Homo sapiens: one gene and its partner. The protein of the gene in region 2 purifies or fractionates together with the protein of the main gene of each other region. This does not show direct contact. Each region holds a gene or a part of one and is shown on either strand. Other genes may lie near its edges.

Region 1 (7,728 bases), on a different chromosome or scaffold from region 2:
GAGACGGGGTTTCACCATGTTGGTCAGGCTGCTCTTGAAATCCTGACCTCGTGATCCGCCTGCCTTGTCCTCCCAAAGTGCTGGGATTACAGGCGTGAGCCACGGTGCCCAGCCCACTTTTCCTCTTTTTTCAAAAATACACAAATTACGTTCCCTGTTCTGCATCCTGCGTTTTCACTTCCACGACGTGCAGCAGCCCCTCCATATCAGCACCTAAAAGTCTCCTGGTGGCCGGCCGTGGTGGCTCACACCTGTGATCCCAGCACTGTGGGAGGCCGAGGCGGGCAGATCACTTGAGGTCAGGAGTTCGAGACCAGCCTGGCCAACATGCTGAAACCTCATCTCTACAAAAAGTACAATAATTAGCCGGGCATGGTGGCATGTGCCTGTAATCCCAGCTACTCTGGAGGCTGAGGCAGGAGAATCGGTTGAACCCGGGAGGCAGAGGTTGCAGTGAGTGGAGATCTCACCACTGCACTCCAGCCTGAGTGACAGATTGAGACTCTGTCTCAAAAAAAAAAAAAAAAAAAGAAGCCTCCTTGTGAGCAGCAGGTCCTACGGTGGCCACTGCTTCCTTGGTGATGCTCTCTGGGTTACGGCCTCCACAGCCAGCCCAAAAGTGGCTTCTGCAAGTCGTGATGAGAGTGTCTGTTGATGTGCTGGGCCCTGCTGGACACTGCGCTAAGCACTTCCTGTGCTGCACGGAATCCTCACACCTTGCCAGGACGGGTCCTTCTTTTTTATTGAGGTAAAATTTACAGGCCGGGCACGGTGGCTCACGCCTGTAATCGCAGCACTTTGGAAGTCCGAGGTGGGGGGATCACGAGGTCAGGAGTTCGAGACCAGCCTGGCCAACATGATGAAACCCCATCTCTACTAAAAATAGAAAAGAAATTAGCCAGGCGTGGTGGTGCGTGCCTGTAGTCCCAGCTACTGGGGAGGCTGAGGCAGGAGAATCACTTGAACCTGGGAGGCAGAGGTTTCAGCGAGCCGAGATCGCGCCACTGCACACCAGCCCAGGTGACAGTGAGTCTTTGTCTCAAAAAAAAAAAAAAATTTTACGATAAAATGCATCAATCTTAAGGGTTGAGAATGACAAGTTTAGGTGACTGTACACAGCTGACCATCACCCGTCACACAGAACATCCCGTCACACGGAACATCTCACCTGTCACACAGAACATCCCTTCACCCCTCACACGGAACATCCTGTCACCTGCTGACACGGAACATCCGATCACCCGTCACACGGAACATCCCATCACACAGAACATCCCATCACTTGTCACATCTCACCCATGACACGGAACATCCCGTCAGCCATCACATCTCACCCGTCACACAGAACATCCCTTCACCCATCACACGGAACATCCCATCACCCATCACATCTCACCCGTCACATGGAACATCCCTTCACCCATCACATGGAACATCCCGTCATCTGCTCACATGGAACATCCCATCACCCATCACACGGAACATCCCATCACCCATCACACAGAACATCTCACCCATCACACGGAACATCCCGTCACCCGCTGACACGGAACATCTCACCCGTCACACGGAACATCCCACACCCATCACACGGAACATCTCACCCATCACACGGAACATCCCGTCACCTGCTGACACGGAACATCTCACCCATCACACGGAACATCCCGTCACCCGCTGACACAGAACATCTCACCCGTCACATGGAACATCCCGTCACCCGTCACACGGAACATCCCATCACACGGAACATCTCACCCATCACACGGAACATCCTGTCACCCGCTGACACGGAACATCTCACCCGTCACACGGAACATCCCATCACCTGCAGACACGGAACATCTCACCCATCACACAGAACATCCCGTCACCCGCTGACACAGAACATCTCACCCGTCACACGGAACATCCCGTCACCCGCTGACACAGAACATCTCACCCGTCACACGGAACATCCCGTCACCCGCTGACACGGAACATCTCCCCCATCACACGGAACATCCCATCACCTGCAGACACAGAACATCTCACCCATCACACGGAACATCCCGTCACCCGCTGACACAGAACATCTCACCCGTCACACGGAACATCCCATCACCCGTCACACGGAACATCCCATCACCCGTCACATGGAACATCCCATCACCCGTCACACGGAACATCCCATCACCCATCACACAGAACATCTCACCCATCACACGGAACATCTCACCCATCACACGGAACATCCCGTCACCCGCTGACACAGAACATCTCACCCGTCACACGGAACATCCCATCACCCGTCACATGGAACATCCCATCACCCATCACACGGAACATCTCACCCATCACACGGAACATCCCGTCACCCGCTGACACGGAACATCTCACCTGTCACACGGAACATCCCATCACCCGTCACATGGAACATCCCATCACCCATCACACGGAACATCTCACCTGTCACACGGAACATCCCGTCACCCGCTGACACAGAACATCTCACCCATCACACGGAACATCCCATCACCCGCTGACACAGAACATCTCACCCGTCACACGGAACATCCCGTCACCTGTAACACGGAACATCCCGTCACCCATCACACGGAACATCCCATCACCCGTCACACGGAACATGCCATCACCCGTCACACGGAACATCCCATCACCCGTCACATGGAACATCTCACCCATCACACGGAACATCCCGTCACCCGCTGACATGGAACATCTCACCCATCACACGGAACATCCCATCACCTGTCACACGGAACATCCCGTCACCCGTCACACGGAACATCCCGTAACCCATCACATGGAACATCCCGTCACCTGTCACACGGAACATCCCATCACCCGTCACATGGAACATCTCACCAATCACACAGAACATCTCACCCATCACATGGAACATCCCGTCACCCGTCACACGGAACATTCCGTCTCCCGCTGACACGGAATATCTGATCACCCATCACATGGAACATCCCATCACCCACTCACACGGAACATCCGATCACCCGTCACACGGAACATCCTGTCACCAGTCACACAGAACATCCCGTCACCCATCACACGGAACATCCCATCACCCGTCACACGGAACATCCCGTCACCCATCACACGGAACATCCCGTCACCCGCAGCTGCCCCTGCCCCTTTGTGGCCAGCTCCCCGCCTGGTTCGTCTCTTCTGGAATTCCACGTCCATGAATCACAGCGCGTGTTCTCCCTGCTGTGGAATTCTTTTACCCAACATAATGTCTGCGTGACTCATCCCCCTGCAGCCTCGGTCGGAGCTGGCGTGCCATCGATCCTGTTGTCCTCCCCATTTTTTAGATAAGGAAACTGAGAGTTAGGGAGGGCACAGATGGAAGAGGATGGCACGGACACAGAAATATGGACATGCTTTTTTTGTTTTTTTGAGTTGGGTTCTCACTCTGCCGCCCAGGCTGGAGTGCAGTGGGACAGTCACAGCTCACTGCAGCCTCAACGGCCTGTGCTCAAGCAATCCTCTCACCTCAGCCTCCTGAGTAGCTGGGACTACAGGTGTACGCCACCAGACCTGGCTACGTTTTGCATTTTTTGAAGAGACAGGGGTCTCACCATGTTGCCCCAACTGGTCTTGAACTCCCGGGCTCACCGATCCACCCACCCTGGGCTCCCAAAATGTTGGGATTATAGGCATGAGCCACTGTGTCTGGCCTGGACACCTTTCTATGTACACACAGGTGCACATGTATGTCATAATCCGTGCAGGACATCCTATGCCTGTTCACATAAGCACACACACAGGGTCCGTGTGGACACCTGCGTGCAGATATGAATGTGTGTGTGAGCACGTGTGCTGTGGATATGTGCAAACTTCCAGCAATGAGGAGGCCCCTCGTGGGTTCCTGCTCTGTGGCCACCCAGCTGACCTGCAGGGCACCACGGTCAAGGGAGAAGCTACTGGCATCCAGTCCCTGTGCTGTGGCTTTGAGCCTGACCTGACCTCTGACCCCTGACTTCTGCCTCAACTGTTTCCTCATGTGATTCAAGTAAACAGTAACTCAGCCCAGAGCCAGGGATCCAGGAAGTGCTTATTAAACGCTGTTGGCACAAATCAGCGATCTCGTATTTCCTGGTAGGGGAATCTGTTGTGTTAGCCTGAGCCCGTTTCTCTCCTAAGGACCTGCTCTCCTGCCAGAAAGGGGAGGCCACTCCTTTCCTGCGCCCTCCCTGGAAGCAAACCAGGCCGGCAGGCGAGTCCCAGGTGTGAGGCAGAGGCCCTGGCTCAGGAGCCCCAGAAGGAAACCTTTGAATCAGGGAATCTTGGGGGGCCTGGCCCGAGGCTCCCCCTCCCAGCACCCAGGACCCCTTTGCACCCCTAAGAGAGCCTTCCCACCCCTTAACCTGACTTGACTTCCCCAGCCCTGACCTGGGATCTGCTTTCTCTTCTGTGTGGAAAGTGCCGCATGCTCAGAAGCTGCTGGCCAGGCCGGCCCTGGTTGGGGGTGGAGGGACTGCCCCTCTCTGCTTTGTATTCAACCTACCTCATTGTGACCTCCCAGCATCCGCCAGGCAGTAGCAGGTGTGAGGGCAGGTGGGAAGCACACACCTGCTACCTGGTGGGCCATTCGATGGTTGCTGAGATCACTTACGTGTGAGGAGATGACGGCCACCCCGCTTGGCCGGGGTCATCACCATCTCCTTTCGGACACGGAGCCTGGGAGGGCCGTGTGCCCCCGTCCTGCTCCTCACTGAGGAGATGACCTGGCTGCAGGGGCCTGGGCCTGTCATCCGCCACCCACCCCAGGTGGGCTCATAGCCGATGGGGCGGAAGTCCAGCAGGGCCTGGTGAGGAGGAGGAGGCCCCGGCTGCATGAGGAGGTCCCCAGGGTCTAAGCCCCAGTCCACTTCGAACAATCAACTCTGCTCCTTGGCACCTTCGAAGAGGAGTGGGCGGTGGGGTCCTGGGCCGGCACCTCGCTCACACCCTTTCTGCCGCCCGTGGCTACGTGGACATGCTGGGCGTGAGGGTCCGGGGCCGTTTGAGCTGCCTCGCCTCTGCTTCTGCGGGTTCTCACCTGGGCCTGGAGAGGGTCAGGGCAGCCCTGCTTACCTGTGGAGGGGCGTCCGCCACACCTGTGCAGGTGCAGGCCAGCTGGGCTGTGAGCTGCTTCCTGGCTTCCACCTGAGCCTGTTTCCTCACCTGGTAAATAGGTATGATGACCTCTGCCTCCCCTGGGCGACTGCTGGCGCCGTGAGGTGGTGGACGTGCAGGGGTGGCCACACGCAGGGATGGCAGGTGCTTGAGAGCAGCCACAAAGGGGGCGCGGGCCCTGGGCAGTGAAGCTCATGGTGGGGGATGGGGAGACAGGACAGGCCTGAGAGTCCGGGTGAGGGCGCGGTGGGGTCTCCAGGGTCAGGAGCCGTCCCCGCCTGCCCCTCCCTGCCTGACGCCTCTGACTTACAGATTGTGGCCCAGAAGAAGGTGACCCGCCCGCTGCTGCTCAAGTTTGGCAGGAACGCTGGCAAGTCCACCATCACGGTGAGACCCGGGCGCACCCCTGCAGCCTGCAGGCCCTGCTGCTGTGGCTCCGAGGGGTGTTGTGGGCGGAAGATGGGCAGCAGCGTGCCGTCCAGGGAGGGTCTGCAGGAGCCGGCAGCTACACAGCCCCGGGGGTACACAGACACCTCCTCTCAGGCCCCGCTGGGTGGGGTCAGCCAGCCTGGGGCCTCTGGTCCCCCACGGTGGGGTCAGGCCCCACCTGGCCAAGCCTGGAGCCCGGGCGTCCCCCTGCCAGGTGATCGCCGAGGACATCTCGGGGAACAACGGCTACGTGGAGCTCTCCTTCCGGGCCAGGAAGCTGGACGACAAGGTGAGTGCAGGTGCCGGGCACGCCTGGCTCAGGCTGAGGTCCGGGAACCGGTTCGAAAACCCGGTCCCTGCCCAGCGCTGACCTCGCGTGGCTATGTCCCGTGTGAGACGTGTGCGGAGTGTGCCTGGGGCTGGGCGTGCTGCCGTCACGGTCGCCATCATCACTGTCACCGCCATTAGCTCTCCCGCCCCTCCTGGCAGCTGGGCTGGGGCTGGGGCAGCTCCCTCCTGTGGGGACCACTCATGACCCTGCTCAGGGATGGGGAAATAGGCCCAGCACCCCCGAGGCCACTGTCGTGACAGGAGGAACTGGAACAGCGCGCGGTTCTGCGGGCTCGTCACGTGGGTGGGCAGAACAGGGTCCAACCCCGCCATGTAGGGCGTCTCCCTGGAGGGGCTGAGTCGCAGGGTGTGTAGGGCAAGTCCGTGGAGGGCTGAGTCGCAGGGTGTGCAGGGTGACTCCATGGAGGGCTGAGTTGCCCGCCGTGGTCAGATCCCTGGGGGCGGGAGGGAGGGACGAGATGCTGTCGGCGGGGACTGGCTGCCTCGTTTTGTGCCTGAGGAATTAGCGGCTGGTGGCATGAAGTGAGCCCTGGGAAACGACAAAGCCAGCTCCCATCCAAAGCCCGATCTCACAGTGCCTGGCCCAGCAGCCCTTGTGCCTCTCCCCAGGACCTCTTCAGCAAGTCCGACCCCTTCCTGGAGCTCTACAGGGTCAACGACGACCAGGGCTTGCAGCTGGTGTACAGGACGGAGGTGAGCGGCCGGGGATGGGAACACAGGGAGGGGAAGGGGCTGTCCCCAGCCCTCACGCATCTCTGGCCACATGGGAGGAGCTCCCAGCCTCCAACAGGGAGCTGTGGGCGCAGGGCTTTGGTGGCTGTGGCTATGGCCAGAATCCAACAGGGAGCCGCAGGCGCAGGGCCCTGGGGGCCGTGGCTGTGGCCAGAATCCAGCAGGCTTGTGTAGTCGTGGCTGTGATTATTTTTAGACCTACCTTCCACTTCCTGCAGGTGAAATGGGATTTCAGCGACGGCAGGGAGAGAGTGCTTTCTTTTGAGAGAAATTAACTTGAGTGAAAATGAATCTATTTAAGGAAGAGAGCAGCGCAGGTGGCTCAGAGGTGGCAGAAGTTACGAAGGTGGAGGCACAGGGCTCGGAAATGTGTCTCCCGGGTCCTCACATGGCTTCGTGCAGGGAGTGGGTGCCAGCCCCAGCTCAGGGCCCCGGCGCTGTCTGGGGTGATGCAGGGGCAGGGCCAGCTGTGCCCGCCTCACAGCTGCTCTTCCACCCAGGTCTCTATCCCCCCCAAGGATCCCAGGGCCCTGGGCCTCCCCTGAGCCAGCCCCTCCCGGCCCACAGGTGGTGAAGAACAACCTGAACCCGGTGTGGGAGGCCTTCAAAGTCTCTCTGAGTTCCCTCTGCAGCTGCGAGGAGACAAGGCCTCTAAAGGTGGGGGACGGGATGGACCAAGGGGGCAGTGAGGGGGTGGCCTGGATGTGGGCTGCGATGGAGACACCTGGGCTCGGGTGGGAGGGTCCTGGGGCCCCCAGACAGCAGTGCTGAGGAGGACTGGGCTCCCCAGTGCCTGGTCTGGGATTACGACTCTCGAGGAAAGCACGACTTCATCGGAGAATTCTCTACCACCTTCGAGGAGATGCAGAAGGCCTTTGAGGAGGGGCAGGTGAGCAGGACGGGGTAGGGGGTCCTCCAGGGAGGGTCAGGTGGGGGTGGAGGGGGGCCTTCGGGGAGGGGTAGGTGAGCAGGACTGGGGGGGTACCTCCAGGAAGTGTCAGGTGAGGAGGTGGGGGGTGGGGTAGGGGCCTCCGTGGAGGGGCATGTGGGTGGGCACCTCTGGGGAGGAGCAGGTTGGGG
Region 2 (7,728 bases):
ACTGTCACAAAGCTCTTAATAGAATGCCACATTCATAGTACGTGCCCAATCAATGTTAGCAATGATTATCATTTTATCATGAACTACTGTTTGATTCTGGAACCTAGAATTTCTCTAAGCCTGACACTTTTTCTCCTTCTCTGGCTTTAAAGATGTGCTGGAAGGCTCACCCTGACTCCACTGCAGGGATTCAGCTTCAACATTATTCCCCTCATAGGACATGTAACCTCACCCACACTTCTACCCAGATTTCAAAATTCCAAGAAATGAAAACTATCTCCTTAAACAAAGAGAACTTTAGGTTTAATAATTCTTCAGATAAAGTATCTCATGCCCGGAGAGCATGAGAAACTAGACTAAGGCACAGATCTAGGAGTAGAAATAAAATGGAGGTCCAAACATGGATCGACTATTATGGAACACCTGATAAAACTCAGAGAGTTACAACAAAAGACACTCACGTGTGTCATTCAAATCCTCACAAGAGTCCTTCAGGATAGTGTCATTATCCTTATTTTACAGATAAGGAAACTGGGGATGAATGAGGGAAAGTATCCTGCCTACGGCCAGCTCATCAATATCAGAACTGGGCTTCCAATGAATATTAGATAAAACTGATATGTTTTGGGAGTTTATCACATGCCTCCCCCTATGCTGAGTCCATTATATGTGTCATCTTATCCAACCTGTACCACAAACCTATGAAGTGGTGAAAATACCTTGCCCAGGGTGAGTTTAGCAGTAACTGGTGGATATGGGATCTGAACACACGACTGGACTCCAAGACATATGGTCAGATGTGCAACTAGATGCCTAGGCATTGGACTCCCATCCCAGTGCACTTTTCCATCTCCCTCACTAGGAAGAGATTCTAGGTGTCATTTCCAATTTTTACATGTTCTTCACTCCACCCAAGAGAGGCCAGAACCATTCCTAAAGCACCAACACATTGAGGCAAAATGTCAGGCAGCAGAGCTGTGGCACCTTTCAAGGATGACAAGCCTTTAACTAAACTCTGGCCTTCAGTAGGGAGAATGTTGAGCTGAAAACAAATCTGGGCAACATTTCAGGTGCTGAGCCTTGTTGCTGACACCACAGAGGCCCAGCAATGCTGCTGAGTTAGTGGTGGCAGACAACTTGCTCCTGGAATCTACAAGGGAACTGGAAATGTTAGGAAGGAAGAAAGGAAGGAAGAGGAAGAGGAGGAGAATTAACATGGCATAGAGAAAAAAATATCACAAGCGTCTGAGCCAGACAAGTCTCAATCCAGTCATGTAAACACAGGCTGTTAATATTTGCTACCATATATTGAACACATTCTAAGTGCCAGGCTAAGTACTTTATGTGACTATTTCATTCAATAAAAGTCACTTGAGCTTATTAGCCCCAGGTTTCTAATGTATAAAATTGATTTAATAACATGTAAGTTACAGGGTTGTTATAAGGATTAGAGCTGCAATGGTCTAATGCTTGGAATTCAGCAGGAGTTAAGTAAATGTTTACATTACTAATTACGAAGCCAATATAAGCAAGGAGGAAGATTCCGGATGGGACAGGCCATCTCGCTATAGGAAAGGAAAGTGGAACAGCATTCATCCTCAACATTTTTACGAAGACAAAATGAAGACTGGAGTAGAAGACTGATCAGTGCAGGTGTAGCATAAAAGTGTAATCCTGGAAGATGTGGTGTGAGAAGGTAGCACAAGTGAAGCAGAGATACAGGAGATAGGGAAGGGAAGCTGGAAGCAGAGGTCACTGGAGGGAGAGGGAGATGGACACATTCAGGGCTACAAAGCAAGTTCTATGTGATTTGCTCACCTCTCAATTGTGGGACCCCTCAAAATGTGTACAGTACTCTCCCAGTGACATGCTTCTTGACCACAATGGATGAACTGTGCCCAGCATGCCCACTTTCCAATGCTCCACTGATCCCCATGTTTTGTTTCTGAAGGACAACCAGCCTTGGAATAATGGCAAATACCTTCTTAAGTTCCTACAAAGTATGGTCCCTGGGAAGTTTATGTCTGTAAGTCAAACCTTGGGAAGTAACTGAGTTTTGATGCCTCTTCCAGCATCATCAGCATCATGCTATTACAATCCCAAACCATGGGGGTTTCTCACAGCTTTACACCAAAGGGCATCACTATCCCTCAAAGAGAGAAACCTGGACACATGTACCAAAACGAAGATTACCTGCAGAACGGGCTGCCAACAGAAACCACCGTTCTTGGGGTAAGTCCACCTCATTATAAGGGGAATACTGAGAAAATACTTTGTAAATGTATCTAGACTACAGATCTACAGTGGGTCTGGGAAACTCTTTCACTCTTTTCTGGCTGACTCCAGGCTAATGAGGACATGAAATGGAGCTTTAAGGGAAGACTCTTAAAGCTCTGCAGCAGTTTCTAGAAACTAAAACCACTAGATCTTTTTCACTAGCATGCTTCACAATTAACAGGTTAGTCTTTCTTATTTTATTTATTTATATATTTATTTATTTTGAGACAGAATCTCCCTCTGTCACCCAGCATGGAGTGCAGTGGCACGATCTCAGCTCACTGCAACCTCCGCCTCCTGGGTTCAAGTGATTCTTCTGCCTCAGCCTCCCGAGTAGCTGGGACTATGGGTGCACGCCACCACGCCCGGCTAATTTTTGTATTCTTAGTAGAGATGGGGTTTCACCATACTGGCCAGGCTGGTCTTGAACTCCTGACCTTGTGATCTGCCCGCCTTGGCCTCCCAAAGTGCTGGGATTACAGGCATGAGCCACTGTGCCCAGCCACAAATTAGTCTTTCTTATTTTGTCATTAGTACAGTAAAAATTTTCTATTTAACCATATGGATTTTACTCAATATGATTAAATTAACTTTGAGCTTATTTTTCAAATATTTTGAGATGAGACGATCAAGACTAATCTCATGACCCATTTTTCCCCGTTCATATGAGTAACTATAAGACATCCAAGTGTCCCAGATCATCATCCCTCATATCCAGAACTTTAATCTCCATGTGGTTTTGAATACCCTCTTATAATACCCAGGTCCTATTCACTGCCTATTTAGATGGATCTCCCTGCCCTGTTTCTTTACAATCTATTCTTAGTACAGCAGGTAGGGTACTCTTTTAAAAATGAAAGTTAGATCATGTATTCTCCTGGCTCAAAATTATCCAGTGGGATTCCTTTTTTGCTCAAAATGAAAAGCAAAGTTGGTAAAACATAGCCTAAAAATCCCTACATAGTTTGTACCATGCCTCCAGTACTTCACAAGCCTCATGTCCTACTACTTTGCTCTTAACTCTATTCTGCCTTGCATGGAACTTGTCTGTACCTTTACAGACAAGACATAGTACACATATAAGCTCTCCAATGGTAGTGATTTTCATTTGCTTCATTCCCTCGTGCCTGGCACACAACATACCTGTTGTGGTATTCAATAACTGTTGATGATGTGAATGGTTGACTTCTTTTTTTATTTCTCCTATGTTTGCATCATCTTTCAATTGCACATGCATTAAACTATGAGCAAAAGCATGGGCTTTAGAGCAAGCTAACAGCTAAACTTCAGTTCTTCCACTTGCGAAATAATTATTATTAAAATCCAATGATGAACAAAATAAGATGAATTACAGCAGAAGAGATGACCTGCTCTATCTAATTTCAACTGAAAAATCTCTTCATTAACACTCCTGTGAAAAGTTTGCTCTCTATTTCCACCTCACTGGACAACTTTTTTATCTACTTTTCAAGAAAATAAATTTAAAAACTGTCAAGTATCTTTTTCAAAAAAAGTTAAAATGTGTGTATGATCACTTTCCGATTTGCTGGTTTAATAATCCTATCAGAAAAGAAGAGGTTAGCTATACATGACTTTCTCTAGAAGCATATCGATTGGCTCCTTGTAACATTTTTCCTCTTTAATATAACAAATTATAATGTATTTTATACTCTTTATACTTTACCGTGTGCATTCAAATAATCACTTTTATCTGTTTGAAGTGCAGTCTAGATTTCCTGTCTTCTCTCTTGTAGACTGTCCAGATCCTGTGTTGCCTGTTGATTTCAAGTCTGGGGGCCATCTTGGTTTTTGCTCCCTACCCCTCCCACTTCAATCCAGCAATTTCCACCACTTTGATGTCTGGGTACCCATTTTTAGGAGCTCTGTGTGTGAGTAGAATGGGGACTCTAAGAGGGGACATGCTTTATAAATGCTAACCAGGTGCATAGTCGTGGAGTGACTCAGACTCCAAGAGGCCAGGAGGCAAAAGGCGGCAAGGCCTCGACTTTCCTTCTATCATTGCCCCACGTCACATTTCCCCTATTCAAGAAGAGCAGCAGAGAGACTTAATCTGTCTTCCTGCAGAGCAGGGGGCAAGAGGGAATGGTAATACAATGGGTATACCAGCACAGAATTTCTTACCTGGCATTACAGCATACCTCTAGAAAAGTGGATGATTTTCCATATCCCTCTTTGAGGCTTTGATGAGGCCATTGGATTCCCTCCATTGTAAGAATAATCAACTTTTCAGGTAGAGAGTGAGAAGGCCATTTTTAAACAATAAAACGAGCACCACTGGTTGATGCCACAGGTTTGCAGAGATTTGGATTAACAAGGGTAAGATTCATGGGAGGCAGGGACATGCTTGCTGTGTGTCCAGAGGTAACCCTGAGCACTAGAGAAACTCTCTTTGCTGCCTTCCACCTAATGGCTCATGAAAAAGGGCCCAGTAGATCCATTTTTCAGAGAGTGGCCAGGGCAGACTCACACTTCCCACAAAGGGTTATTTCTTCTCCACGTAGTATTTGGTACAAAGGATAAAAATCAAATATTCTGGGCAAATGAACTATACTAAGGTACCACTTCTGTGTGGATACAGTCCCTGTGTGAACACAAACTGTGCAGTCACATAAGGAGGCCCTGGTCCTGCCCCAGAGCACAATTTGTCCTTGACTTCTCCTGTAACCAGTGGTTGTGGGCCCCACATCTCCTTAGAGAAGCTAGCGTTAGCTCATACTGGACCCTCTTTGCCTGTGATTATTCAATATCCAAGCCACACACTTAAGCAACTTTTCAGCTTCTCAGAATACCCTTCCTCTGCCAGCTGGATCTTTAATACCACTGAGATTAAATACTGATTTCTGGGGCTTTATGATAAAGACTTCACGTCTGAGCCTGCTCTTCCCACTTTCCTCGACTCCCATTCTGACTCAAGCAACATACACCAATAACTTCCAGTCCATGTGTTTCTGCACCTTGTCCCATCAGAGCCTCTTTCCTGAGTGCTTCTGTTGGCTGTTCCAATCTCTCTGTCCATTCAAGTCATTGGTCCATCTCAACCTCCTCTCTTTCAACCCTGTAATTTAGTAACACTCTTCTCCTTCCCAGGTACACCTTTTCTCCAGGCCTCCTCAGTTCCTAGTGATTTCCACTAAAACAAATCCAACCCCTCTGTGCATCTGCATGTCATTCAAAGTCAATATAGACATTCTTATATCAGGTGGGAATTAGGCCTATCTAGCAATATAGATCCACAAGATTTCTGCAGTGTTCTCTCCCTAAAAGTTTTCCAACATCACTTTTTGATTGAGTGATTGACAGTGACATGGTGGGCACATTTCCACAAGACAACTGAACTGATCATTTCTCTCTCTTCTGGGCAGTTTGGCATTACTGGATCCCTCTCAATTATCTCTGGAAAACAATCAACTAAGCCCTTTGTAAGTATAAGGACCATCAAATCTCAGCTGGTTGGAATTGAAGGAACGTCAGAGTTAATTCTTCTAGTTTAAAAATCCCTATTTTACAATTTAGAGAGAAAAAGCTTAGAACAGGCTAGGAAGCCCAGGTTTTCCTGGCTGTCCCATTGGTAGAACCAAGAGTAGAGCCCAAATTTCTTGCCTTCTAGACCAGTGCTCTTTCGTCTACACAATGTTGCTCCTGGATTATATTCCAAGCTTGGAGGAGGTTTACCTCAGTTATTTAAAAAGTGTACATTTTTAAATGTACCATGGACTCTTTATAGCTTGTAACCTTGACCTTGAATAAGGTAGCCACCCATCCCAGAGAGAGCCTACAGATCCTTTTTTCTATAAAACCTGCCTCTTGGGGTTCTTTTTGATGCCAAATGTCCCCATTCATAGAGTTGGGACTTCACACAAATTCTAGCCCTTCAGCGTCAGGGTGACCAATTGTTTGGTTTTCCCAGGACTGTCTCAGTTTTAGCCCAGAAAGCCTATATCCTGGGAAACCCCTTACTCCCCAGGCAAAGCAGAATAACTGGTTTACCCTACTCTGTGACCGTGGTAACAAGTTGAAAGAAGTCCATGATATATTTTCAAAGTTCTACTATTTAAGCAACTGAAATAAACTTCTTTCAGTCAAATATCAGGTGGGGAGGCATTCATTCCCCTGTCAGAAGAGGGTGTTGCCGTCTTCATCCAGGCTGGAGGAGACTATTTCCATCCAAAGACTCATGCTTGATAATTGGATGTTTGAGAAAAAAAATCAGTTTAAAGTAAGGTGGGAGAAAATGAGGGTGATGGAGTAGGGGTGAGGGGGATGTCTGCAATGTCAGCACTGATTGCAGCACCAAACTCAAAGACAATACCACTCATGCCACTGCCAACATACCCCTGGCTTCCTCAACAACTTTAGAATTATTATATTGCCCTAAGTGCATCTAGAATATGACCTTTGGTCCCTCCCTAGAAACCCAATGTATGTCTTCTTACTTAAAAGAGCGGCTTCAGAGAAAAGACAAAAGCAAACTGAAGAAGTTGGAATACCTACCTACAGGTGGATCAGGCCTATGAGAACCACATTCACCACACCATTTCCCAACTCCTCTTCTACATTTTAGGAGACAGGATTCTCCCATAGCATGACGATTCACTAGCAAAGACACTGATGTGCCAGGCTCTGTGCGAGGTTTCCAGCACATGCTCCTCTCTGTTTAAGCATCACTGGAAGACAATGTATGTTGGGAAGGATGGTTGTCCTGCCCTTTTCTACTCCAGCTCTGTAGCTATATGGATTCATGTGCTGAGTCTTTGAAGGAAAAGTAGTCCCAGTGGGCAGTATCTTTGCCCAAAGCTACCATATGAGCAATGGAGCCCACATGTTGTTCTTTGTCCCACTTGTGGAGCCCACATTGTTGTCAAGTCCAAGCATAGATTTCCCTTTCTGTGTATTCAGTGCATTTGGGAAGCCACTTCTGAGATCAGAAGATTCATCTTCCACATTTTATAAAAGAGATAACTGAAGCCCAGAGTAAGAAGGACTTGCTCAAGCACACAGATGGATCAGTGACAGATGGGTCAGTGACAGAGCTGGGATAGGAGGAGAGGATTTCAGTTTCTAAGTCCAGAACTATGACTCCAACCAATGAATGCTGTGAACTCTTCAAAACCCTCTTCCATAATCCTGGGTTCTAGACTGCAGCTTCAATCATCAGGAGCATATACCAGCCTCATGCACCATCCATGTGTCCTCATCTGTGCCTAGCCAGGCCCTGTATCTTCTTGAGTCAGGATGTGGCTTTTCCCTAAATCACCTCTATGGGTGTGTGGCAGGGAAGAGAGAAAGGCTGCTACGGAGAGAAGCAAAGGCTTTATAGCTGCTTCCTCCCTTTCTCCCTCCAAGGTTTGTGGGAAAAGTGGCTACAGTCTGATAATATTTCTGTTTGTGAATGGGTGGAGAGAGAAGCACAGGGTCTAAGCCCATGTGCCT

Evidence for each region. The genes of interacting proteins can lie anywhere in the genome.
Region 1: the proteins of MS4A7 (region 2) and CPNE7 purify together in Homo sapiens (affinity purification with mass spectrometry; 2 studies listed by BioGRID and IntAct, with this or other methods). This does not show direct contact.

What each region holds. Positions count from the first base shown.
Region 1 is NC_000016.10:89,578,249-89,585,976, forward strand, and holds part of CPNE7 (copine-7), read left to right. Parts: intron 1-608; coding exon of another isoform or gene 609-748; intron 749-5,195; coding exon of another isoform or gene 5,196-5,280; intron 5,281-5,448; coding exon 5,449-5,523; intron 5,524-5,779; coding exon 5,780-5,854; intron 5,855-6,525; coding exon 6,526-6,609; intron 6,610-7,215; coding exon 7,216-7,305; intron 7,306-7,438; coding exon 7,439-7,537; intron 7,538-7,728. UniProt on the Homo sapiens protein: Calcium-dependent phospholipid-binding protein that may play a role in calcium-mediated intracellular processes.
Region 2 is NC_000011.10:60,381,057-60,388,784, forward strand, and holds part of MS4A7 (membrane-spanning 4-domains subfamily A member 7), read left to right. Parts: intron 1-2,072; 5' UTR 2,073-2,085; coding exon 2,086-2,232; intron 2,233-4,031; coding exon 4,032-4,166; intron 4,167-5,660; coding exon 5,661-5,717; intron 5,718-7,728. UniProt on the Homo sapiens protein: May be involved in signal transduction as a component of a multimeric receptor complex.